Linked DNA regions of Homo sapiens: region 1 is linked to region 2. A link means that fine-mapping ties the variant in region 2 to the expression of a gene that starts in the linked region. Tissue or cell type: subcutaneous fat. Region 2 holds a variant in brackets; the other region holds the start of a gene. All regions are shown on one strand. Distances are from middle to middle.

Region 1 (12,417 bases), 23 kb before region 2:
CACTGCACTCCAGCCTGGGCAGCAGAACAAGACCCTGTCTCAAAAAGAAAAAAATAAAATAAATAATGGCCAGGCGTGGTGGCTCAATCCTGTAATCACGACACTTTGGGAGGCAGAGGCGGGTGGATCATCCGAGATCGGGAGTTTGAGACCAGTGTGACCAACATGGAGAAACCCCGTCTCCACTAAAAATACAAAAAATTAGCCAGGCATGGTGGCCCATGCCTGTAATCGCTGCTACTCAGGAGGCTGAGGCAGGAAAATCACATGAACCCGGCAGGCGGAGGTTGCAGTGAGCCAAGACCGCACCACTGCACTCCAGCCTGGGGAAAAGAGCAAGACTCGGTCTCCAAAGAAAAAAAGAGAGACTGAAAAGACAACCTACAGAAAAGAAGAAAATATTTGTGCATTATATATCCAACAACAGTCTGTTAACTACAATATATAAAAAATTTGTATAACTCAACAACAACAACCAAATTACAAATGGAGAAAGAGCTGAACACACACTTCGCCAAAAAGACATGCAAATGGAAAACAAGCACATGAAAAGATGATCAACATCGTTATCATTACGGCCATCAAAACTGAAACCACAACCAGATACTCCTTCACACACACTAGAAAGGCTATAATCCAACAAATGTAAAATAACAAGTGTTGGCAAGCTCAGAGAGAAATCACAACCCTTAAATACTGTATGTGGAAGATAAAATGGTGCAGCTTATTTGTAACATAGTTTGGTATTTCCTTAAAAAGTTAAAAATAGGCTGGGCAAGGTGGCTCACGCCTGTAATCCCAGCACTTTAGGAGGCTGAAGCAGGCAGATCACTTGAGCCCAGGAGTTCAAGACCAGCCAGTACGACACAGCCAAACCCCATGTCTACTAATACAAAAATGAGCCAGACATGGTGGCACATGGTGGCAGACATGGTGGCACACAGCTGCAGTCCCAGCTACTTGGGAGGCTGAGGAAGAAGGACTGCTTGACCCCATATTGTGGAGGTTGCAGTAAGCTGAGATCGCACTATTACACTCCAGCCTGGGCAACAGTGCAACACCCTGTCTCAAAAATAAAAATAAAAATAAAAAGGGCCAGGTAAGATGGCTCACACCTGTAATCCCAGCACTGTGGGTGGCTGAGGCAGGCGGATCACCTGAGGTTGGGAGTTCGAGACTAGCCTGACCAACATGGACAAACCCCATCTCTACTAAAAATACAAAATTGGCTGGGCGTGGTGGTGCATGTCTGTAATCTCAGCTACTCAGGAGGCCTAGGCAGGAGAATCGCTTGAACCTGGGAAGCAGAGGTTGCGGTCAGCCGAGATCGCACCATAATACTCTAGCCTTAACAACAAAAGCGAAACTCCGCCTAAAAGGAAAAAAAAAAATTAGCCAGTGTGGTGGTACAGACCTGTAATCCCAGCTACTCAGGAGGCTGAGGAAGGAAGATTGCCTGAACCTGGGCGATGGAGGTTGCAGTGAGCCGATATCAGGCCACTTCACTCCAGCCTGGGCAAAAGAGCAAGACTTGTCTCCAAAAAACAGAACAAGAAAAAGGAAATGCATGGGACGAAGTGGCATATCCTGAAATGAGGACTTTCCTTCTGGACTGGGGTTTCCGATGAAGGTGACAGTTTATCCTTCAGTCTCCACAGGTCACGAATTTGCCGTCCACCAAGAGGCAACAGAGGGAGCCCCGCCAAGTCCCATGCCAGAACTATGACATAATCACATTCCCTCACTCATTTCAGTACCTAAATATTAATAATTCATCAGCTTAAACATCTACACTTACTTTACCAATTTTCCATTGTATAGATGAAGAGGTTTCCAAATTTTATATAGGTTGTCATGATGTGGACAGGACTTTTTGATAGTTAACTATAGCGAATGACTAAAATATAAGTGTTTAAACCTAAAATACCTTGTAACTGTTAACACAGGGCTACAGAACACAGCAACGTAACAGTCTGTCCAGTAAATTCTTCTGAAATTCCTTTTTTTTTTTTTATAGACGGAGTCTCACTGTCACACAGGCTGGAGTGCAGTAGCACAATCTCGGCTCATTGCAGCCTTCACCTCCTGGGTTCAAGCGATTCTCCTGCCTCAGCCTCCTGAGCAGCTGGGACTACAGGTGCATGCCACCACACCAGGCTAATTTTTGTATTTTCAGTAGAGATGGGATTTCACCATCTTATCCAGGCTGGTCTCGAACTCCTGACATCAGGTGATCTGCCTGCCTCAGCCTCCCGAAGTGCTGGGATTACAGGAGTGAGCCACTGCACCCAGCCCTCTTCTGCAATTTCAATAATCAATTGTGCTATTTGTCTTTCTTTCAGCAATGAGATTTTATTTTTCTTTCCTAATTATTTCAAACATGAACTTTGGTTCCAGAGAACTAGTATTTCCTTGATTTATAAATTGAGGGCAGCTGGGCACGGTGGCTCAGGCCTGTAATCCCAGCACTTTGGGAGGCCAAGGCAGGCAGATCACTGGAGGTCAGGAGATCAAGACCAGCCTGGCAAACATGGTGAAACCTGATCTCCACTAAAATTGCAAAAAATAGCCAGCCATGGTGGCAGGTGCCTGTAGTCCCAGCTACTCAGGAGACTGAGACAGGAGAATCGCTGGAACCCGAGAGGTGGAGACTCTGGTGAGCCAAGATCATGCCACTGCACTCCAGCCTGGGTAACATAGGGAGATTCTATCCTCAAAAAAAAAAAAAAAAAAAAATTGACGGTCGTCTCACAGACAATCTAATAATGAATTATTTTTTTGTCTTTAGAAAATCAACATTAACTTTTCTACTTTTAGATATCGTAATTGCTGTGACTTGAAGGACTTATCTAGAAAAAGCCTTAAAAAACTACGGTCAGCACTGGGTGAATGGGTTGAGGGAACCCACATAAAATCCCCAAGACACCTGGGAGTCCATGTCCCCATGAGTGGGACTGCAGGCAGCTGTAGCAGACTGGATGGGAGAGGACAGCAGGCAGGAGAACTCGGTGTCTGGAGTCCACGGTTCTAAGGCCAGTGAAAACCACTGGCAAAGTGAAATCCGAAGCTTGACAGGATGAAATTTGTGATTGTAAATGAATATTTGCCATTTCCAAGTGAGATCGCCAGTGGTGGTGGGATGGACGGGTGCTCCTCCAAGTGGGCTGCAGTGAGGAGAGCGCGGCACCACGCCAGGATGCTCCTGCCAGGAACACAGGATCTGCACACGTTTAGGAGGAAACGCTGGGCAGACCCAGCTTGGAGTCATCTCTGCTCTTTACATCTGTTAAGGCTGTGAAAACTGAGAGTCGGCCGGATGCAGTGGTTCACGCCTGTAATCCCAGCACACTGGGATGCTGAGGCGAATGGATCACCTGAGGTCAGGAGTTCAAGACTAGCCTGGCCAACATGGTGAAACCCCATCTCTACTAAAAATACAGAAAATTAGCCGGGTGTGGTGGTAGGTGCCTGTAATTACAGCTTATCGGGAAGCTGACGCAAAAGAATATCTTGAACATGGGAGGCAGACGTTGCAATGAGCAGAGATGGCGCCATTGCACTCCAGCCTGGGTGACAGAGGGAGACTCCCTCAAAAAAAACAAAAAACAGAACACTGAGTCTCAGGAACAGTTCCCGAGAAGGAAAATTGGGCCCGCATGGAAATAGACATTTTTCTCCCACCTAGGGCAGGGAGTGAAGTGAAATAGGTCTGTGGAGTGGACTTTCACATAGAAACCATGTATTTCCTAAATTGGGGGTTACTTGGGGATCACCTGGAGGAGTATTCCTGGTTTTGGTGAAACACACGGGGGTATTTTTTGTGAAGCTGCAAATCTGGCACAGCAATAACGGCTGGGGAACTGGAGATCAAGGAGAAGGCATACTAAGTGCTGTTGCAAGTTTCCCAGAAGTATGACATTATTGGGAAGTAAACTACTTTTTAAAACAACCGTGGCAATACCACGTCAGTAAGCCAGAGACAACACCATGAAGTTTCATGACAGAGGCCAAATGCAGCCCAAACCCAGCCCAGCAGAGGCTGTCAACTCAGCGCCCCAGCGAGAGCCGGAAGGTTCCATCCTCAGAGCTGCAGACCCTCTCGTGTGGGCTGCAAAGGCCATGTCTGCATCCCGGGCGGTATGTACGCTCTGAGAGATACATGCGTGTTCCGGGGGTTATATGAGTGTGACGGGTGTGGCGTGAGTCTGACTGTGTCACGGGCGTTCCAGGGGTTACGTGTGTGCTCTGAGGGACACATGCGTGTTCCGGGGGTTATATGAGTGTGACGGCTGTAGCGTTAGGTGACGATGTCATCTCCGCGTTCCAAGCGTTATGTGCGCACTGAGGGACACATCCACGTTCCCGGGGTTGGATGTGGAAGGCAGCTACCCCGACGGGTGTGCTCTCTGCATACGACGGGTGCTAACACTAGCATCACAGATGCAGTGTTATTAGCACTACAGAGGTTATTGTCAGTGTGGCGGGTGTTCTAGTTGCTTTCCTGACACTACATTTCTGTTCCAAGACCGCAGCTTGGCCCTGTGGCCGCCTCGCCTTGGGTGTGGAGAATGAACCTCGAGTGCGCTGGATTCACAGGGGATTTTGGTTTCTAATTTTCCACATGAAGGGTCTCTACCCCTCAGCAGTCAGGGCTGAAAACAGGAAGGATTTTACTCAACCATGGACGCCGCCGGCTCAAGGTGTCCCAAAGCGAGGGGCGTTTCCTGGTATGTGCTGAGGAGAACGCGGCTCCCGCCCTTGCAGGGTGCAGGCGCGGAGGAAGCGTGCGGGATGCGGCCGCCTCAAGGCTCAGAAAAGCCGGGCTCGCGCGTGCTCTGCTGGCGGCCGGGGGCACTGCAGCGCCCTAGAGCTCAAGGCACTGTCGGAAGCTGAGCGCCCTCTGCTACCCCTCCTGCTGCACCAACTAAAAGACAGCATGGAGTGTTCGGCGCCATCATTCTAGAAATGCAAACTGACACAGAGCCCATTAGCCCGTGAGTTTCTAAAAATGCAGAAGGGACAATTAATTGGAAACCATAGGAAATGAAATCAACATGAATGCACATTTTACAACTTATGCAAAAAGTCACTCAACATAGTCCTCAGACTTAAAATGCAAAACCGTCAGAGGCCTCTTAACCACAGTGACTTTATTTCAAATAAAGGCTTTTAAAAAGTTAAATCTGGGCAGGGTGCAGTGGTCACATCTGTAATCCCAGCACTTTGGAAGGCCAAGGCGGGTGGATCACTTGAGATCAGGAGTTGAAGACCAGCTTGGGCAAATAGCAAGACCCTTATGTCTACAAAAAATATATATATATATTAGATGGCATGCTTGCACATACCTGTAGTCCCAGCTACCCAGGAGGCTGAAGCGGGAGGATTGCTTGAGCCCAGGAGTTCGAGGCTGCAATGAGCCAGCCATAATCGCACCACTGCACTCCAGCCTGGGCGACAGAGTGAGACCCTGTCTCTCTCTCTCTGTCACACACACACACACGTTAAATTTGTTGGATTATATATTTCGGGGGTTGAGCACTTTTCGTTATAAAATATTTATGATTGTGGGAACAAGTTAATAAAGACATGAAAGTTATTTAAATGTCCCAGAACTTTAAGAACAAAAAGCATTCTTAGTTTAAAAATAAGTTTTACTTTAAAGGTAACAGTACACACATAAATTGTTGTTAAAATCGACAGTAACAAAGAGAAGTAACAATACTAATAGCCTGTCACAAACTGATTCTTAATAACCTATATAAACAAACATTAAGCCCGGGCGCCGGGTGGCTCATGCCTGTTATCCCAGCACTTTGGGAAGCCGAGGCAGGCAGATCACTTGAGGCCAGGAGTTCCAGACCAGCCTGACCAACATGGTGAAGCCCAGTCTCTACCAAAAACACAAAAAATTAGCCGGGTATATTGGCACGCACCTGTAATCCCAGCTACTTGGGAGACTGAGGCAGGAGAATCCTTGAACCCAGGAAGCAGAGGTCGCAGTGAGGCGAGACCATGCCATTGTGACAGGAGAGAAACTCTGTCTCAAAAAAAAATTATATGTTTACAACAGGTGCATTTCTCCTCTTGCTTTCTGAGGACGCCCTGCTATGTAGCTGAGTAGTCACTAATAAACTATCTTAACTTCACTATACTCTGTGACTTGCCAAAAGGTCTTTCCCATGTGAAATCCAAAAACCTGTTCTTGGGGTCTAGGACAAGACCCATTTTATAATGACAAAACTATACAAATTCTAGAGGGAAACATAGAAAGAAAGCTATGTGACCTTGCGTTTGGCCATGAGTTTTAACACGACACTATCAGAGGCATTTGAACCCCTCCTCTATATGAACTCCAGGGTGGTTTATGTTCCATTGGCTAAGAGAAAGTTTTCTTCAAAAATGTGACATGATTTGAGGTCAAACATTAATATCAAGTAAACTCAAAAGATTGAGAAGCTAGCATTAGTTCTGGGAAAACCAGAAGTGTGCCTTTTTTGGAAATAATCATTGGTAGCACAAACTTAAGAATCTCCAAAGGAAATAAAAATGAGTTATTAACTTACAGTTTTCACCAATTAAGATATAAATGAAGCTAACGAAATCCGGAAATACAATTTCACTGTTTTTAATGTTCATTAAAAAAAAATCCTTATCAAATAGCCCCAGTAAGTCACCAATTAAGTCTTTACTACTTAAAAGCAAAATCCACCTATGTCCTGAACAGTATCCACTTTACGAGCCTCATTATATGTACGAGATAAAATTCAGAAATAAATAAATATACATGTATACGTATACAAATATATTTCAAATTAAAAAATACTTTTAGATAGTGGTATGTATTACATTTAGAAATTAATAACGAAGTAAATTATGGGATGTCATCCACGCCTGTCCCAAAGGTACCGAATTTATAAATCATCTCAGGTGCGGAGCAGGACAGGTTGAAAATAGGAATGACATGAACCCGCGCGGAACAGCTGCCGGCGCGGTGTCCAGGGCGGCACCCCGCCCGGTCCCGGCCCCTCCAGCCCTGGGCCCGACCCCTACTACGCCTCTGCCTCGACGCGAACGCGGAGCCCGAGCGCGCGTCACGCCGTGTGGGGCCGAAGAGGCTGCTACCCAGAGGCGGAGTGCGGGCTCGCGAGGGTCCCCACCCGACTCTCGCTCCCGCCAGCACCTACGGACTCGCGTCCCCGCCGCGCGCCGACTCGGGAGCAGCACCGCCCCCGGCACAGGAGCCTCACGCGCCTCTTACCTAACAGGAAGTTGGGTGGAAGCAGCGCGGACCCACGGCACACCGAACGCACTCCAACAGAACCCGACGCAGACACGCGCTTTCAACCGGCGGAGACACTGGCAGGGCCAGAAACGCGCGCAGCGGGGGCGGGAGGTCGGTAAGCTCCCCGCCCCTGCCCGAGACCCCGCCCCGGCCCGGCCCCGCCTTTTTCTCTGCCTCCCCTCCCTGCACGTACGGGCCCCGCCCCTCGCGCGACGTTTTTTGTTGACCCGGAAACGGATTCTCCGGAGCCGAGGTCCGCTCGGGTGAGTGCCCTCCGCTTTTTGTGGCCAAACCCAGCCACGCAGTTCCCTTCCTGCGGCGTCCTCCACACCCGGGGTCTGCTGGTCTCCGCGGATGTCACAGGCTCGGCAACCGCCCTCCTGTCGGCGGGGAGTCCCGCGACGCCCGGAAATGCTCCGAAGCCTGTCGCCCAGCTGCCAGATCTGCGTCTGTGTCCGGTTCCGTCACTGAGGTCGCCCCTGTCCGGCCCTTCCACCCTAGTTCTCTTCACCGTCCGCCCATCCTATCGCGCGCGGCCTCAGGTCCCGATTCGGCATGTGGCTTGTCTTCCATCGTCCCCACCCTCGCCCCTCTTGGCCCCTCAGGGCAGCCCTGGGATTCGGCAGACGCCAGTCCTCCCTGAGATGCTTCCCCATCCTTCCCTCCGCCAGGCCCTACGTCTCCGCAAACCCCACGCTTCGGGGTGGCCGCCTCAGACAGGACCCTGAGTCCGAGACTGGGGTAGGGGACCTGCCCGATCCTGTAACAACCCTCGTGCTTCTGCACAATCGCCTCCCACTAGCGGTGACTGTTGGGTGTTTACCTTCCCGGTGTCCCACTGAGAAGCGGGCTCTTCCTTGGCAGGGGCTTCTTCATTGCCTCGCTGTGGATGTCGAGGTGGGGCAGGAGAGTGAGGAGAAAACAGAGGAGGGAGGTAGAGCCAACGAGCGAGAAAAGGGGAGGGAAGTTTAGATGGGAAGTGGATGGGTCTGAGGAATTTGAACAAACACCGACAATGAAGGAGAGTGACCTGAGCAAGTAGTAGTGGGGTAAATGGAAATAGACAAAATGGGAATCAGCAGAGATATGGAGGACAGAATACAATGAGGAGGCCTTGACCGTCAGTAGCAGAGAGGGCAGCAGAAGCCTAATTCCCAAATTCTTTAGATGGTTTTCTGATTTCCAAATTAGTTTCCCTTTTAAATTTATTGTGTCAGGTTCAGCTTATGAGGCCTCAATACTTTTCAGTCTTAATTGTATATTGAAAATACTTTTTGTTTACTAAATGCTTTTTACATTAATTCAGTGTGCACTTCGTAAGGATAATGATGATTTGAGTTAGTTTAGTATTCAACAGCTTCCTCTATTCCTTTATATGATCTCTGTATTTAATGGCTGTGGCATAAAGTTTCCAACTAAGTTTAAGTATCAAGTTTTCTTTGTGCTGTTTTCTGCAAATATTGAAGGATGACCTGGATTGTCCTAGAACTTTGTTCCAACAGATTACATGTGTTCATAATGAATAGACTGCTCAAAGATATTTCCAAAGCTCACCTTTTATGTTTTTCAGTTCCAATAATTACATCTTTTTAAGGTTTATATTTTTTGATGACTTAATGTGATGTTCTGGAGAAGACAAATGCTTTTAATCAATATGATTAAAACCGTGAAAGACAAATCGCTGTTACTTAAGAGTGTGACATATGATCTGAAATCTTTAGGGGGCAGGGATGTTAAGGGAAAACTGCCACTATCGTATTAAGGTCATGCCATTCCTGTGAAGCTGGTGCTTGTTACTCTCTACTGGCTTCTGTTCACCTTTCCACCGGCCCCAAGACACACACATAGTGACACAAGGCAGTGGACAGGGAAAGAGCAAGACTTTATAAAGTAAGCACACAACAAAGGTATCTTTCTAATGAGGAGGAGGTGTTGGTTCTGGGAAGGAAGCTTGGGATTTGGGTATTCAGGATCCAGAAGTGAGAGAGCCTGGGAAGTTCAGGAACCAGAGAAAGAAAAAGCCTTGCCCATTCTCACCCATGACACTGTGCTCAGCAGGTACTAGCAGACTTCAGGCTCTGTGACTAAAAGGGGTCAGACCAGTTGATATACCCACAGCTGCCATGTAAGGATGTGTGTGGACTTCACTAGGGAAGAACGGTGTTATGAAAGAAGGGGCAGAAAAACTCACCTGTTGGTCTGCATGTAGAGGTTTATTGTCCTGAATTCCTGGAGGTTCAGTGAAAAGCAGAAGATTGTCTTTTACACATGTTGAGTTATGCCCCCATATATGTGGTTGTGGTAAAGAAAGAGGGTGTGTTGATGAGAGGTCCTGAAATGCATTTTCCTAATACTCAGCAGGGGCTTCTCAAGAAGGATCTTCCCTAAGAAAGAAGCTCAGAGAACAAAAATGGAAAAGGATTAGATATGGCACTTTCACTGGAAAAAGTCATGTTATTCATTGATTGTTTTGTCATCTCCCGCCTTAAGTGTTGTTTTTAGGATGTGGTAATCTCTGACCCTGCCTAACACATTTCCCAACTCACCCATAGCCTTCCCTTAACGTCCTCCCATCTTCACGCTATCACACTGTGACCCAGTGAATTCGAACTTGTGAAGTTCCATTCGGGGGATCATATGGGAAGGGCTTCACACCCAGACATAGATTATAGATGGGAAGTGGGCCACATGGTGTCAGTGAGGCAAGTATGGGTCGTTTAGGGACAATGCACTGTCAGATCTTTGTTGACCATGATTAGAGAAACTGTGCATATTAGTAGTGAATTAATGTCAGGAATATCTGACAAATCCTGGAAAAGAAGATTGATGAGAGGAAATGTGTTCTGCCCAACTGTATAATGCATTTGAAGCTTAAAACAATGAATCAGTATTGATCTGGCCACAAAATATTAATGATTTGAATTAAAAAGAAAAGTTTAGAAAATGATAGCTTTGACAAATTAAGGTAGCATTTCATCCACACGATGGAGTGTGTTTTATTCAGTAATTGATTTAAAAATGGAATCAACCTAAGTGTCTAACAGGAGGGAGTTTTATAAATTGTTCACAGAACATCTGTTCCAAGGAGACCTTGATGTTCATAGATTTGTAAAGAATGCTGCTTACTAGCACACTGACTGCTCTGCAAATGTCTGAGGGTTCCTCCACTTGGGGCAAGTTGGGGGTTTGATCGCAGAGTAAATAAATGGTGCATTTTATAATGTAATATATTCTAGCAAGATGCAGCCCACAAACTGTATAGATACTCTTATGTACCACATAAAGTTCATCTACTACTTTAACCAGAACTTGATACTGTATGTATGTTTTTTTTTTTTAGATTTGGATAAAATGACAACTCATTGTTATTTCCAGTTCACAAAGTAATTGTGAGGCTGAATAAATTTTATTATTTTATAGACATATGTGTAAAATGAATTTTTCTATGAAACTCATTTTTGATGTATATTAGATGCTATTTTATATTCTGTAGTTTAATTATATGTACGCACACACAAACACACACTTCGGTGTCTTATTATGTTTCTGCAGTGAAACCAAAATCCTTCCTTCACGCCCTTTGATTTTATGTTTTCCTCAGGAAGGCAGGAGCTATTGTATATGATAAAATATTATGTTTTATTCAGTCCACTTATGAAATTGTTTAATATTGTTATAAATATTTATATGACTTATTTTAAATTTCCAAATAACATAGGTTACATGAAATTTGACAACTTTATTTTTTTCTTTTCACAACTATTTTGACTGTATACTCACCAAAAATCAAAATTTAGACAAAATTGACTTTTAGACTAATTCTCATTTTTTACATGTAAAAGACCACATGGGACTTTTAAGTCTAGGTTGCCCTGAGTCTACAGTCACTGAGGTTTTATGTCACTATGTCCTCCATTCTAATAATAGGATTTTCAGGCTTTATTCATGTCATTTTTATATCCTCATTAAGTTTTAAAATTTATTTACATGGGTCTACAAATTTATTTCAAATCGTAGTCATAATATTTGCCTGTTGTAAATAGACACTGATTTTGTGTGTTTGCTTTTTTTAAGGACTAATGTTGCTAAACAGGAAATATTGATTTCAGAATATTCATAATAGTTTTGCCCACTTTTTAAATATTCTTATTAGTATTGATAATTAGAATTGATTCCACTTTTTCAAGTTTACAGTCACGTCATCTGAGAATAACTACAGTTGCAGCTCTTTGACTCCATTTTTGTAGTCCCTCTCCTTTTCCCTCTTGTTTTGGTCCCACCTCAGGCATCATGTGCAGTGGTGAATGGCATCAGCCTCACCCAGCCTCCTTTTTCCAGCCTTACCTTTAGTGGAAATGGTTCTTTTGTTAACTGCTGAATATATTGTTGAGATTTTATTGATTAAGAAGAATTAGTCCCCACAATTTGGTATGATTTTTAAAGATTTTATATTATTTTTAAAGATTTAAATTATATGAAAATGTTTTTTCAAAGGTCTATTAATGTGATTTTTTTAATCTTTAAAATTACTTTGTGAAAATGATAGGTTTTCTAGTATGGAATTATCCTTTTATTATTGCAATAAACTCCACTTTACCATGCTCTGTCATTATTTAACCATACCAGTGATGGCCAGGTGGCCAAAATAAATAGCCAAATGGCTAAAATTGTATTGATGATTTTTGCAAATGTAAGTAAGGAAAATTGTTGGTTAAATTTGTAGTTATTGTTACATTCATGTTCATTTTGATTAGCATAATAAACTAATGAGGACAGGCTTATTTTTCTCCTTCAAAATAACTTAGGTTACAAAGGAACTAGAAGTGATTTCACATGTAAGAACTCTCACAAATCACTTTTACAGTTAAACTCTGATATATAACTTAAACATTAAAATTGGCTAATCAGATTTTTGTGCTGATTAATGAGGGAAAGTTTTTACTCTTTTTGTGGAAAGTAATATACATATTCATGTTGGAATATAATTATTCCCATTTCTTAGATTTTAAATTACTACTTTTAAATAAATACAGTCTCTTTTATTAACCTGTGTTTTTTCTTTCCACCGTGGGTCTTTTCAGTTTCATGATTTTGCTCTCAAAACTTTTTAATTATTGATTTCTGTCAAATCTGTT
Region 2 (12,417 bases):
TATTCAGGAGGCTGAGGCAGGAGAATCACTTGAACCCAGGAGATGGAGGTTGCAGTGAGCCAAGATCATGCTACTGCGCTCCAGCCTGGGCAACAGAGTGAGACTCTGGCTCAAAACAAAAAGACAGTGACATTCAATGGAACTAATACACATAGAACACAAAATTATAGGTCCTAACTATAGTAGTGGTATATATGTACATGGTAATGATTAAGTCAAACATGGATTATGAAAGACTCACTTTAAAAGTACAGTCTTATGGTGCTTAAATTTGCCTTTTTGTTTTTAAACCACTTTATCAAAGTGTAATTGACAAAAGCTGTTACTTAATGTATACAACTTAATAAGTTTTGAGATAAGGATAAGCCCAGGAAACCATCACCACCACCATCTGTGCCACAAACATTCATTCTCTCCAAAATTTCCTTCCCTCATTTTTCATTGTTCTCTTTGTGATAAAACCACTTACATCACAGCAACCTGTAGCAAATTTTTAAGTATATAATACAGTATTGATAAGTATAGGCAATATATTATATGATTTAACATTGCAAAAATAAAACTAATTACAAATGAATCTATTTAAATATAATTTGGCAGTGCTGGATAATTGTGGTTACATTTGCATGAATGTCTCCCAGAATCAGGTATGAGCATCATAACAGAGATTTTTGTTGCCATGGGCTTTTTTTCTTTAAGAACCTTTCTGTTCTGTGTGTAAATGTTTAATATTCTCACTTCTCACAAGGGCTATTTATGGAATCTTAGCTTATATATTCCTCTCTAGCCTCTAAAGCTTACACTTTAAATTAATCTGTTTTTTTTTTCTTTTTTTGTTTCATCTTTATTCACTCCATCCTACCCAGAAGCAGAAACCCCACTATTTTGCACAAAACAAAAATGTCAGCTTATTTTTCCTCCGCCTAGACAGGCCATCTTTCTTCTGGGACCTTATGTTCCCTTCATGTTAATTTTCAAGTGCTTGAGAAAATCCAGTGTGATACTTCATTGACTCTCCCCTTTCTCATGAATTCTACCTCAGAAAATCCTGTCCGAACAGGCTACCCTCATGCCTAAAGCAGCTGTTTCATGTATTTCGTTTAAGTTTTGTTACTGTTAATGGTGGGTTGGTCCAATAACATCCACAGTCATGCTGGGAACAAAAATTTTTTACTCAAATATTTTAAGCCAAATAATGCTTATTCTATTTTTATGGGTGAAATAATTAAATCAGAATTTTCACAATAATGACTATTTCTATACGAAAAAGTTCTCCACTGTTCACAGCTTAACATCACATTAAATCCATTGGTGTCAGCTGCCTCATTTACCACATGCGACCATAAGGCCCGGCTCTTTTGGCCTGTGACAGAAGTCAGTGTATTTTCTCCCTGTGCCACATGTGTCCCTGCTCCCAGTCCTGGGTTTCTGTGTTGATGCCGAGGTATAAGATACCCATAGTAAGAGCACACACATGCACAGCCAGATTTCCTTTGATATCAGATTAAGAAGTGGTTCCTGCAGAAATTTTTAGATAAGGGCTAGTAAGTTTTGAGTCATCAGGTCATTGCCATGGAAAGGGAGGTAACCCCTGGGTATTGCCATGGCAGTGGTAAATAGATATGGCAGACTGGTGGGTATCTCTGGAAAGTTGCTTTTGCTATGGCTTTGTTTTAGCTACTCCTCAATCTGGTCCAGTGTCTGAGCCCTACCTCTGGAGTCAAGTCCCACCCCCTACCTCATCCTCTCCTCAGAGATTAGATATTCCTCCTTAATCTTAAGGGTGCTGTAGAAGGGCAGAAGTCTGTATTCTGTAACTGCTTCCTGCTGAGCTTATGGGCATAGGCCCTGCCTAGCACTGGAGGAGTAAAAATCCCTGGGTACAGGCCGGGCACGGTGGCTCATGCCTGTAATCCCAGCACTTTGGGAAGCCGAGGCGGGCAGATCACAAGGTCAGGAGATGGAGACCATCATGGCTGACACAGTGAAACCCCGTCTCTACTAAAAAAAATACAAAAAATTAGCTGGGCATGGTGGCGGGTGCCTGTAGTCCCAGCTACTCGGGAGGCTGAGGTGGGAGAATGGCATGAACCTGGGAGGCAGAGCTTGCAGTGAGCCAAGATCATGCCACTGCACTCCAGGCTGGGTGACAGAGCGAGACTCCGTCTCAAAAAAAAAAAAAAAAGAAAAAAGAAAAATCCCTGGGTACCTCAACTAAGGGACCCACAGGCAGGACACTTTTTCATTCTCTGGGTCAGTAAACAGGATGGTTGGAATTCTTCTGCCAGCATTGTCTTTACCTGGAAGTTTTGTAATCTAGAAGACACAAACTTTACTAAGAGGTTAAACAAGGAAGTGACAAAGAATAGTAAGATAGCTATCAAAGGTCCTAGGAGAGGTAAAGACCAGTGAGACTTGGGAAGGTACTTTTCATAGATGACCAGATACAGTTGGGAGTCAGTGCCCTGATTATGTAACCAGGTAACTTGCTCATAGATCTTTTGAATGTTAATCTCAACTTGTCCAGATTTGTTAATATACATGCAGCAGGTTTTACTAATAACTTCACAGACTCCTCCTTGTTCAGCTAGTAAATAATTCAACACTAGTCTCTTATAGAGAACTAAATTTGCCAAAGAGTCTAAGGACTTGATTTCCCTTTAATGCCTGACCTGTGATAGTGGCTAAGCTTTCTAAGGGTTTGAGTCAAGTTCCTTAGAGTTAAGTCATGGTAGACAAAGCTGCCCCAGGGTGCTGCTAATCCTATCACTGCCCTCATTTCTGCCAGAATTAATCCTATCGCTTGCTTACTTCTGGTATTCTTGGGTCTATTGGGGTTATAGACAGTGACCCCTGGTGAGTCAAGGGGGGGCAATGTACATTCACTTCTGTTCCAAGTACTTGACAAAGAAAAGCTACTCCTAAAAGAACAGGTGACTCCCTAGAGTTGGGAGTGGTTACAGATTCTGATTTATTCCCGTTCATGGCCACAAACAGAAGCCCTATGGGGTATGATGTTTATTCTTTGCTGTCAAGTTGGGTCTATAGAGATATTTTCTCCCTGTTCCAGTGGGGGTGGTCAGATAATCTTTGTTTCCCAGAAGTGGGCAGTACTTCCACCTTCCTGGACTGGGCAGTCATTTCTCCTTTGTATGTTCTGATCCAGAAATCACCATATATGTTTTCTTCTCACTTACAAGTGGAATCCCACTTACTGCAGCCTTGGAAACTTGACAACTATAGTTGGATCAGAGAGCATCACTCCACTTTTGTGTCATTAACACAGACGTGAGAGCAAAGGATAGAATCATTTGTGCACTGGAGATATGGATATCTAACTTCCCAGGTCCAGGGAATAGTGGTGGAGGAGGGGTTCAAGTGGAATACATTAAGTGGGTGAGAGCTGCACTTAACTAGTAGGGGTTTGATTATTTCTGGATTGCTATGGTTAGTTAGGAGGCCAGGGGGGATGGTCATGAGATTTTCCAGGTAAGCCAGAAGATATAACTCTCTATCCTGGGGATGTTGATGACAAATCTAACAACTGTGAAGATGATTCCCTGATGCTATAATCTTAGAAATCTTTACTATAGAGTTATGTTCTCACCCACACTGGATCAGGGTAATTGGAAGAGCAAACATCAACAGTGACAACATGGTGTCCAGCTAGGCATTAGCATGGTCTCTATACCCAACAAGGACAAAACAGGTGTTTTGCAGAAGTTGGCTAAAGCAACATAAAAGAAGTTCAATTAAGAAGAAGAGAAAAATTAAGCTCCTATTCCCACCCACAGCATCACATTTCCACTTTTAGCTGAGTGTTGAATCTTTTAAATAGGTACCAGAGGTCTTCCAAAAACTCATAGATGTAGGTCATGATGTCCTCTTTTTGTGCCTGTGACTCAGAAACAGGTTTAATCATGGACAGGTATACCCAACTGGTTCTTCCCTGAAGTTTCACAGTGGTGGGAGTACTCAATAAAACCTGATAGTGGGCCTTCCATTTTGGTTGTAGTTGATCTTCAGGGGATATTTCTTTCCAAGTTTTCAGCAAAACTGCATCTCCTGGTTGAATAGGGGGGTTAATTCTTTTATTAATCTCCTGGTTGAATAGGGGAGGGGGGAATACTTTGTTTCCATATGCTTGGAGGGCCTTTTGAACCTGGCTTCTTCAGGCAGCGGGGAATAGGGGCCTGGGCTTGTTGGATAAGTGGGAGGGGTTCCTGATGACTTTGGAGTGTAATTCTGCACCAAAGAACTAGTGGGGTCCCCCTCAAAAGTAGGAGACTGGGGAGGCTCTGAAGTGGGAGCACAGATCTCAGAGGAACAGCTAAAAGGGGGTCATCTAGGGTATCTGGTGCAGCTTCAGACACATTCTACAGCTAGCCCTTAGATTAGGATCCTGGTAGAGGGAAATAAAAGCCTGCACATAGCAAACTTCTTACCATTTTATTTCCTTTTCACACAACAAATCTAACTGTATGATATCATTATAATGTAAAGAACCGTGTCTAGAATAAATATGTTGGTTTATCAATTTTTATTGAATCCAAACATTATTGCAATAGTAAACAAGGTTTTTCTTTTTCAACCTGTCTAATAATTTGAAGCTACTCCAATGGCCTAAATGACACCCGAGTGGCGAGTCTTTTTGAATGCTTACTGTTGTCCCCATGTCTAGTAAGGCTCACTACAAGGGGTTTTAGTTAGCCTAAGTTTAGCAAATGCATACTTACTTTTCCCTTTTCATTTCCCACTTTCTATAGTTGCCAAGGTGTTACAAAAGTAGATTAGGAAAACCTAGCCAATACCAATCAGGACATAGGCGTGGGCAAAGACTTCATGACTAAAACATTGTAGGGAAAAGAAATAGAGATCAGACTATTACTGTGTCTATGTAGAAAGGCAAGACATAAGAAATTCAATTTGGACCCGTACCTTAAACAATTGCTTTGCTGAAATGTTGTTAATTTGTAACTTTGCCCCAGCCAATTTGACCCAACTTTGAGCTCACAAAAACATGTGTTGTATAGAATCAAGGTTTAAGAGATCTAGGGCTGTGCAGGATGTGCCTTGATAACAAAATGTTTACAAACAGTATGCTTGGTAAAAGTCACTGCCATGCTCTAGTCTCAATAAACCAGGGGTACAATGCACTGCGAAAAGCTGCAGGGACCTCTGCCCTGAAAAGCTGGGTATTGTCCAAGGTTTCTCCCCATGTGATAGTCTGAAATGTGGCCTCGTGAGATGAGAAAGACCTGACCGTCCCCCAGCCCGACACCTGTAAAGCGTCTGTGCTGAGGTGGATTAGTAAAAGAGGAAAGCCTCTTGCAGTTGAGATAGAGGAAGGCCACTGTCTCCTGCCTGCCCCTGAGAACTGAATGTCTCAGTATAAAACCCGACTGTACATTTGTTCAATTCTGAGATAGGAGAAAACCCCCCCCTATGGTGGGAGGCGAGACATGTTTGCAGTAATGCTGTCTTGTTATTCTTTACTCCACTGAGATGTTTGGGTGGAGAGAAACATAAATCTGGCCCACGTGTACATCCAGGCATATACCTCCCCTTGAACTGAATTATGACATAGATTCTTTTGCTCACATGTTTTTTGCTGACCTTCTCCTTATTATCACCCTGCTCTCCTGCCACATTCCTTTTGCTGAGATAATGAAAATAATAATCAATAAAAACTGAGGGAACTCAGAGACCGGTGCCAGTGCAGGTCCTCTGTATGCTGAGTGCCGGTCTCTTGGGCCCACTGTTGTTTCTCTATACTTTGTCTCTGTGCCTTATTTCTTTTCTCA[A/G]TCTCTCATCCCACCTGGTGAGATATACCCACAGGTGTGGAGGGGAAGGCCACCCCTTCAAACATCAAAAGCAATGGCAACAAAAGCCAAAATAGACAATTGGGATCTAATTAAACTAAAGAGCTCCTGTACAGCAAAAGAAACTACCATCAGAGTGAACAGGCAACCTAGAGAATGGGAGAAAATATTTGCAATCTACCCTATCCGACAAAGGACTAATATCCAGAATCAACAAAGAACTTAAACAAATTTACAAGAAAAAAAACAACCCCATCAAAAAGTGGGCAAAGAATATGAACAGACATTTCTAAAAAGAAGACATTTATGCAGCCAACAGTCACATGAAAAAAATGCTCATCATCACTGGTCATCAGAGAAATGCAAGTCAAAACCACAATGAGATACCATCTCACACCAGTTAGAATGGTGATCATTAAAAAGTCAGGAAACAACAGATGCTGGAGAGGATGTGGAGAAATAGGAAGGCTTTTACACTGTCAGTGGGAGTGTAAATTAGTTCAATCATTGTGGAAGACAGTGTGGCAATTCCTCAAGGATCTAAAACACGAAATACCATTTGACCCAGTGATCCCATTACTGGGTATATACCCAAAGGATTATAAATCATGCTACTATAAAGACACATGCACACATATGTTTATTGTGGCACTATTCACAATAGCAAAGACTTGGAACCAACCCAAATGTCCATCAGTGACAGACTGAATTAAGAAAATGTGGCACATATACACCATGGAATACTATGCAGCCATAAAAAAGGATGAGTCCATGTCCTTTGCAGGGACATGGATGAAGCTGGAAACCATCATTCTAAGCAAACTATCACAAAGACAGAAAACAAAACACCAAATGTTCTCACTCATAGGTGGGAGTTGAACAACGAGAACACATGGACACAGGGTGGGGAACATCACACACACACTGGGGACTGACAAGGGTGGGGGCTGGGAGAGGGATAGCATTAGGAGAAACACCTCATGTAAATGACAAGTTGATGGGTGCAGCAAACCAACATGGCACGTGTATACCTGTGTAAAAACCTGCAGGTTGTGCACGTGTACCCTAGAACTTAAAGCATAATTTTTAAAAAGTGGATTATGAGCTTCAAATGGGCAGTTGGATTTTGAACCTAAATGCCACAGACAGCAACGGTTGGTAGAGAGGTGGGCTCAAAAATGGAAGGGAGGGACTGTGGAAGGGAGAAATGGAAGAGGTAAACAGTGCTGCCCAAGGGGAGACCTCAGAGGCCCTGACCTGCTGGGTAACCTATCCCGTAGCAGAGACACTGAAAAAAATATTCACGTGGCCAATTGCCTACCACTGTAGGTGGCTCTCCATTATGCCAGGGGCCTGGGAATTCCCATTTCCTTGGACCAAGAGTGGCTTGAGCAAGCTAGTTGGAAGACAGCATAAAGGAAGGGTTAGCAGCTTGCTATTAGGAAAATACTTCTAACTTATAGGGCAGAAAAGGGCAAGACCAATACTCCCCTAGGGAGAGGGCTATAACTCATATATCCCTCAGAATCCTAGAGGGAATGTCAACACAAATACTCCAGATCATATGGGGGGTGGCCAGAATACCAATGTTGAAAACTCAGAAGGCCCAAGTTTCAGCCAACAAGGGTCCCTTCACCAAATCCTGAAAACCCTGGGGCACCCAGAATGCGGCCAACAGTCAATCCAAGACCAAATTGGGGTCAGCAAACAACATGACTCTAGCATCCCGAAGTAAAAACAGTGGGGATCTCTCACAACCAAGTATCCTGCCTTAATCGTCCCCAAACAATTAACAGAAAGGTAAAACCAAACATAAGACTGCACACATTTTAGGACTGAAAATAAAATAACTAATGGAACAACACAATGGAGTCCGAAGAGAAAGTACTCAGGGAAGGGGTGACAAGGACATGCTCTAGCCAAAGACGTTTATTTCATTTCCTAGTTCTCCTGATACTATGGCGATGGGGGCATAAGGGACACTCACCTGTCCACCAGAGCACATATGGTGCTGACTGATTTTCCCCATGGGACCCAGGTGAAGATCTCGCCAGGATACCTCAGCTTGGGTGGACTTAACTGCCACAAAGGGTGGGTCCTGCACAGGGGGGGCCTGTAACCCACTGGTCGGCCAGTCAGACAGGTGGGTGTCACATAAGGTGGTGACACTATGGCTGCCCTGCCAGTAGGCTCAGCTGCCGCAGTGGGAGGGGCCTGCACTGTGTCAGTAACCCACCAGGCTGCAAATTTTCTGAACTTTTATACTGTGCTTCCCTTATAAAATTGAATGCCTTTAACACCACCCAAGTCACATCTTGAATGATATACTGCTCAGAAATTTCTTCTGCCAGATACCCTAAATCATCCCTCTCAAGTTCAAAGTTCCACATATCTCTAGGGCGGGGGCAAAATACTGGCAGTCTCTTTGATAAAACATAACAAAAGCCACCTTTGCTCCAGTTCCCAACAAGTTCCTCATCTCCATCTGAGACCACCTCAGCCTGGATTTCATTGTCCATATCATTATCCGCATTTTGGTTAAAGCCATTCATCAAGTCTCTAGGAAGTTCCAAACTTTCTCATATTTTCTTGTCTTCTTCTGAGCCCTCCAAACTGTTAGAACCTCTGCCTGTTACCGAGTTCCAAAGTCGCTTCCACATTTTCGGCTATTTTTTCAGCACCATCCCACTCTACTGGTACCAATTTATAATATTAGTCTATTTTCACCCTGCTGATAAATACATACCCGAGGATGGGCAATTTACAAAAAAAAGGAGGTTAAATGGACTTATAGTTTCACCTTGCTGGGGAGGCCTCACAATCATGGCAGAAGGCAAGGATGAGCAAGTCACATCTTAGGTGGATGGCATCAGGCAAAGACAGAGCTGTGCAGAGAAGCTCCTCCTTATAATATCATCAGATCTCATGAGACTTATTCACTATCACAAGAACAGCACGGGAAAGACTTGCCTCTATTATTCAATTACCTCTCACCTGGTCCCTCCCACAACACCAACCATGCTTGGCTAAGTTTTTAGTTCTAGTTTCATAGAGATGGGGTCTCACTATGTTTCAGGCTGATGTCAAACTCCTGGGTAAAGAGACCCTCCAACCTCAGCCTCCCAAAGTGCTGAGATTACAGGCGTGAGCCACCAAAGCTGGCCCGTTTTTCTTGATATATCAAAATTATTCCATACAGTCAGATAACTTTTCTTTTCTTTTCTCTTCTTTTTTTTTTGAGACGGGGTCTCGGTCTGTCGCCCAGGCTGGAGTGCAGTGGCGCGATCTGGGCTCACTGCAAGCTCCGCCTCCCGGGTTCACACCATTCTCCTGCCTCAGCCTCTCGAGTAGCTGGGACTACAGGAGCCCGCCACCACGCCCGGCTAATTTTTTGTATTTTTAGTGGAGACCGGGTTTCACCATGTTAGCCAGGATGGTCTCGATCTCCTGACCTTGTGATCCACCCGCCTCGGCCTCCCAAAGTGCTGGGATTACAGGCGCGAGCCACCGCGCCCAGCCAGTAACTTTTCATGTGGTTACTAACAGCCATGGATTTCCCTGTCCAAGGTACCAGTTTTTCGGTTGCATTTCTCTATATACTCATAGCCGTGGACACTGTCTACCTGTCTGATGAAATTCAAGTAACCTTTTCATTAGGTTTAACTTCCAAGAAATCTAAATGGGTTTCTTATAAACAAAAGCAATCACACTATAGGAAATTTTTCTTTACCTTTCTCACAACTAGCCTAAAAGACAAAAATAAAGATTGTACATGTTATCAAGGCAATTCCTTCCTTGTCTTAATTGGGTTTTAGATTAGTTAGGAAAAGAGCTATAAAAGGGTTAATGTTTTTACATCTATGTAACCTTCTGTATTGCTATTATTTAACAGTGACCCCTGATTCTGTTTGATTGAGTGTTTTGAGTCTTCTGACATCTTTGGCAGGTTTCTTCAAGATTAAAAACCTATATTAAGTCTTTTTGGCCTAAAACTAACTTCGGGATTTTGAAGGTTGACCCCTGGAAACCCTCAAAAATATTGCCTCTTACCTTATAGAGATTAAATGGTTAGACTTATCTGGTAAAATATATGGGCGACATTTTACCACACAGGGCACAAAGGATATCAAGTAATAAGTGATGGAAGATCTTTCAGTTACACTTATAGGTATGTTATTGATATAAATGTTCCTGACATAAATGTTCCAAAAATCATATATATTGATGAAAATCTGTTGTCAGCCATACTTTTGTTTTGTTAAATATCTTCTAAAGTTATATTCATATAAATATGTTATAAATGTAAGTATTCTAAGATTATATACAACTTATAAAGATCTCAGGGACCTGATGCAAAGCTGTAAGACATGATTCTGGTTGTTATAAAATGCTACATATAATAAATATAACCAAATTTTCTTATGAATTGGGAACTTTTGTCAGATTTTAACCGTGGTTAGGATTAGCACAGTGGCTCATACCTGTAATCCCAGGACTTCGGGAGGTTGAGGTGGGAGGATCTCTTGAGCCCAGGAGTTCCAGGCCAGCCTGGGCAACATAGTGCGACCATGTCTCTACAACAGAAAACAAAGTTAGCTGAATGTGGTGGCATGTGCCTGTGGTACCAGGTACTCAGGAGGCTGAGATGGGAGGATGGCTTGAGACCAGGAGGTCAAGGCTGCACTGAGCCATGATTGTGCCACTGCACTCCAGTCTCAAAAAGATTAAAAAACAAAATTTATAACAGTATTACTGTTCCCTCAAAAGCTACTCCTACAGGAGTGGCACAAAGGATATCAGGAAAAAAAAAACCCTCTTAAATGCTATTCCCATTGTCTTCCCACAGAAAATTGCCTGGTCCATTATCGAGTCATGAAAACAAACAAAAAGGATAAACCAGTTCCTTATTACAGAGCTGGACTAAAATCTTATATATAAAACCATTCTAGGCTTAAAATACATAATGAAACAACTGAAATGCCTTACAGCCTTTTAAATGAATAAACTCTTAACAGAGCTTGGAGACCAGATTAAAAAACATAAGATTGGATAGAAAGTCATTGATATGACCCAATTGGTCACTACGAGTAAGCGCTTTGAAAGACTTTTAGAATCATAAAAAATGCTAAAAGAAAGAATAAACAGGCTAATAAACTAATATCTTTACAAGTACAAAAGCTACAGGAACAGACCTCCTTATATCTGTTATAACTCAAAACTGATATGTCCTAAACAAAGGAAACCTGGGTAAGCTCTATACCTCGAGATGGCTGCATTCATTGTAAACAATGAGGTCCCTGGAAGACATGTCATCTGCTCTTGGAGTAGTCCTCTAATAGGCTGGCTCCTTTTGGGCCACACAGTATTCCCATCAGAGAAAGTCCCCGAGGGTTTGACAACAATCCACCCTGCAGGGGTGGAGGACCTGAGGAATTCTCTGGTGAGGAACTTCCTGTAATACCTTTTTTTTGAAATTAAAAAAAATATTGTGGGTACATAGTAGGTATATATACTTATGGGGTACATGAGATGTTATGGTACTGATATGCAATGTAAAATAAGCACATCATGGAGAATGGGGTAATGCATCCCCTCAACCATTTATCCTGTGAGTTACAAACAATCCAATTACACTCTTCTAATTACTTTTAAGTGTACAATTAAGTTATTATTGACTATAGTCACCCTATTGTGCTATGAAATATTAGGTCTTATTCATTCTATTTTCTGTACCCATTAATCATTCCCACCTCCCCCCTGCCAGCTCCCCCTTCTACCACTACCCTTCCCAACCTCTGGTAACCATCCTTCTACTCTTTATGTCCATGAGTTCAATTGTTTTCTTTTCTTTCTTTCTTTTTTTTTTTTTTTTGAGACAGAGTCTCACCCTGTTGCCTAGGCTGGAGTACAATGGCGTGAACTTGGCTCACTGCAACATCCGCCTCCTGGGTTCAAACAATTCTCCTACCTCAGCCTCCCAAGTAGCTGGGATTACAGGTGCCCGCCACCATGCCCAGCTAATTTTTGTATTTTTAGTAGAGATGGGGTTTCACCATGTTGGCCAGGCTGGTCTCAAACTCTTGACCTCGTGATCTGCCCCCACCCCCACCTTAGCCTCCGAAAGTGCTGGGATTACAGTTGTGAACCACCACGCCCAGCCCAATTGTTTTCATTTTTAGTTCCCACAAATACGTGAGAACATGTGATGTTTGTCTTTCTGTGCCTGGCTTAATCCACTTAATATAAAGATCTTCAGTTCCATCCATATTGTTGCAAGTGACTGGATCTCTTAGTTTTTTATAGATGAATAGTACTCCACTGTGTATACATAACACATTTTCTTTATCCATTCATCTGTTGATGGACACAGGTTGCTTCCGAATCTTAGCTATTAACTAATACTAAGATGATGAAGATTCTTGTACACTATTTGTGGTCACTGGAGTCACTGTATTCACTTTAATAACAACTCTAATAAATCAAAGTATCCCTCTGAGTAAAAAAATACTTCTGTGATGGGTGTTTCAAATCCTATCCAGGGAATCCCCATGTCTCAACCTGTCCATATCATGCTTGGATCATTTTAGAAAAACAT

Alleles and levels. Alleles are on the strand shown, and positions count from the first base shown. SD is a standard deviation of normalised expression in the study named.
For the expression in subcutaneous fat of the gene that starts at base 7,586 in region 1, A is the low allele of the variant in region 2 and G is the other (moderate effect, 0.52 SD a copy in TwinsUK).

What was found.
Region 1: ZNF596 starts here. The variant in region 2 is fine-mapped to the expression of ZNF596 in subcutaneous fat (GTEx, PIP 0.95).

The regions. Positions count from the first base shown.
Region 1 is chr8:224,871-237,287 of GRCh38, forward strand. It overlaps ZNF596 (zinc finger protein 596), which reads left to right and starts at 7,586. Exons shown (of 6, transcript NM_001042416.3): 1 at 7,586-7,824. It also overlaps the pseudogene RPL23AP53. RefSeq lists a silencer at 7,353-7,452 and an enhancer at 7,473-7,792.
Region 2 is chr8:247,919-260,335 of GRCh38, forward strand. LOC101927566 (a long non-coding RNA gene) reads right to left here. Exons shown (of 5, transcript XR_245320.4): 5 at 10,349-10,396. Among named protein-coding and RNA genes, the nearest start is that of ZNF596, 22 kb to the left of the region's middle. The variant A/G (reference allele first, on the strand shown) is at 5,805.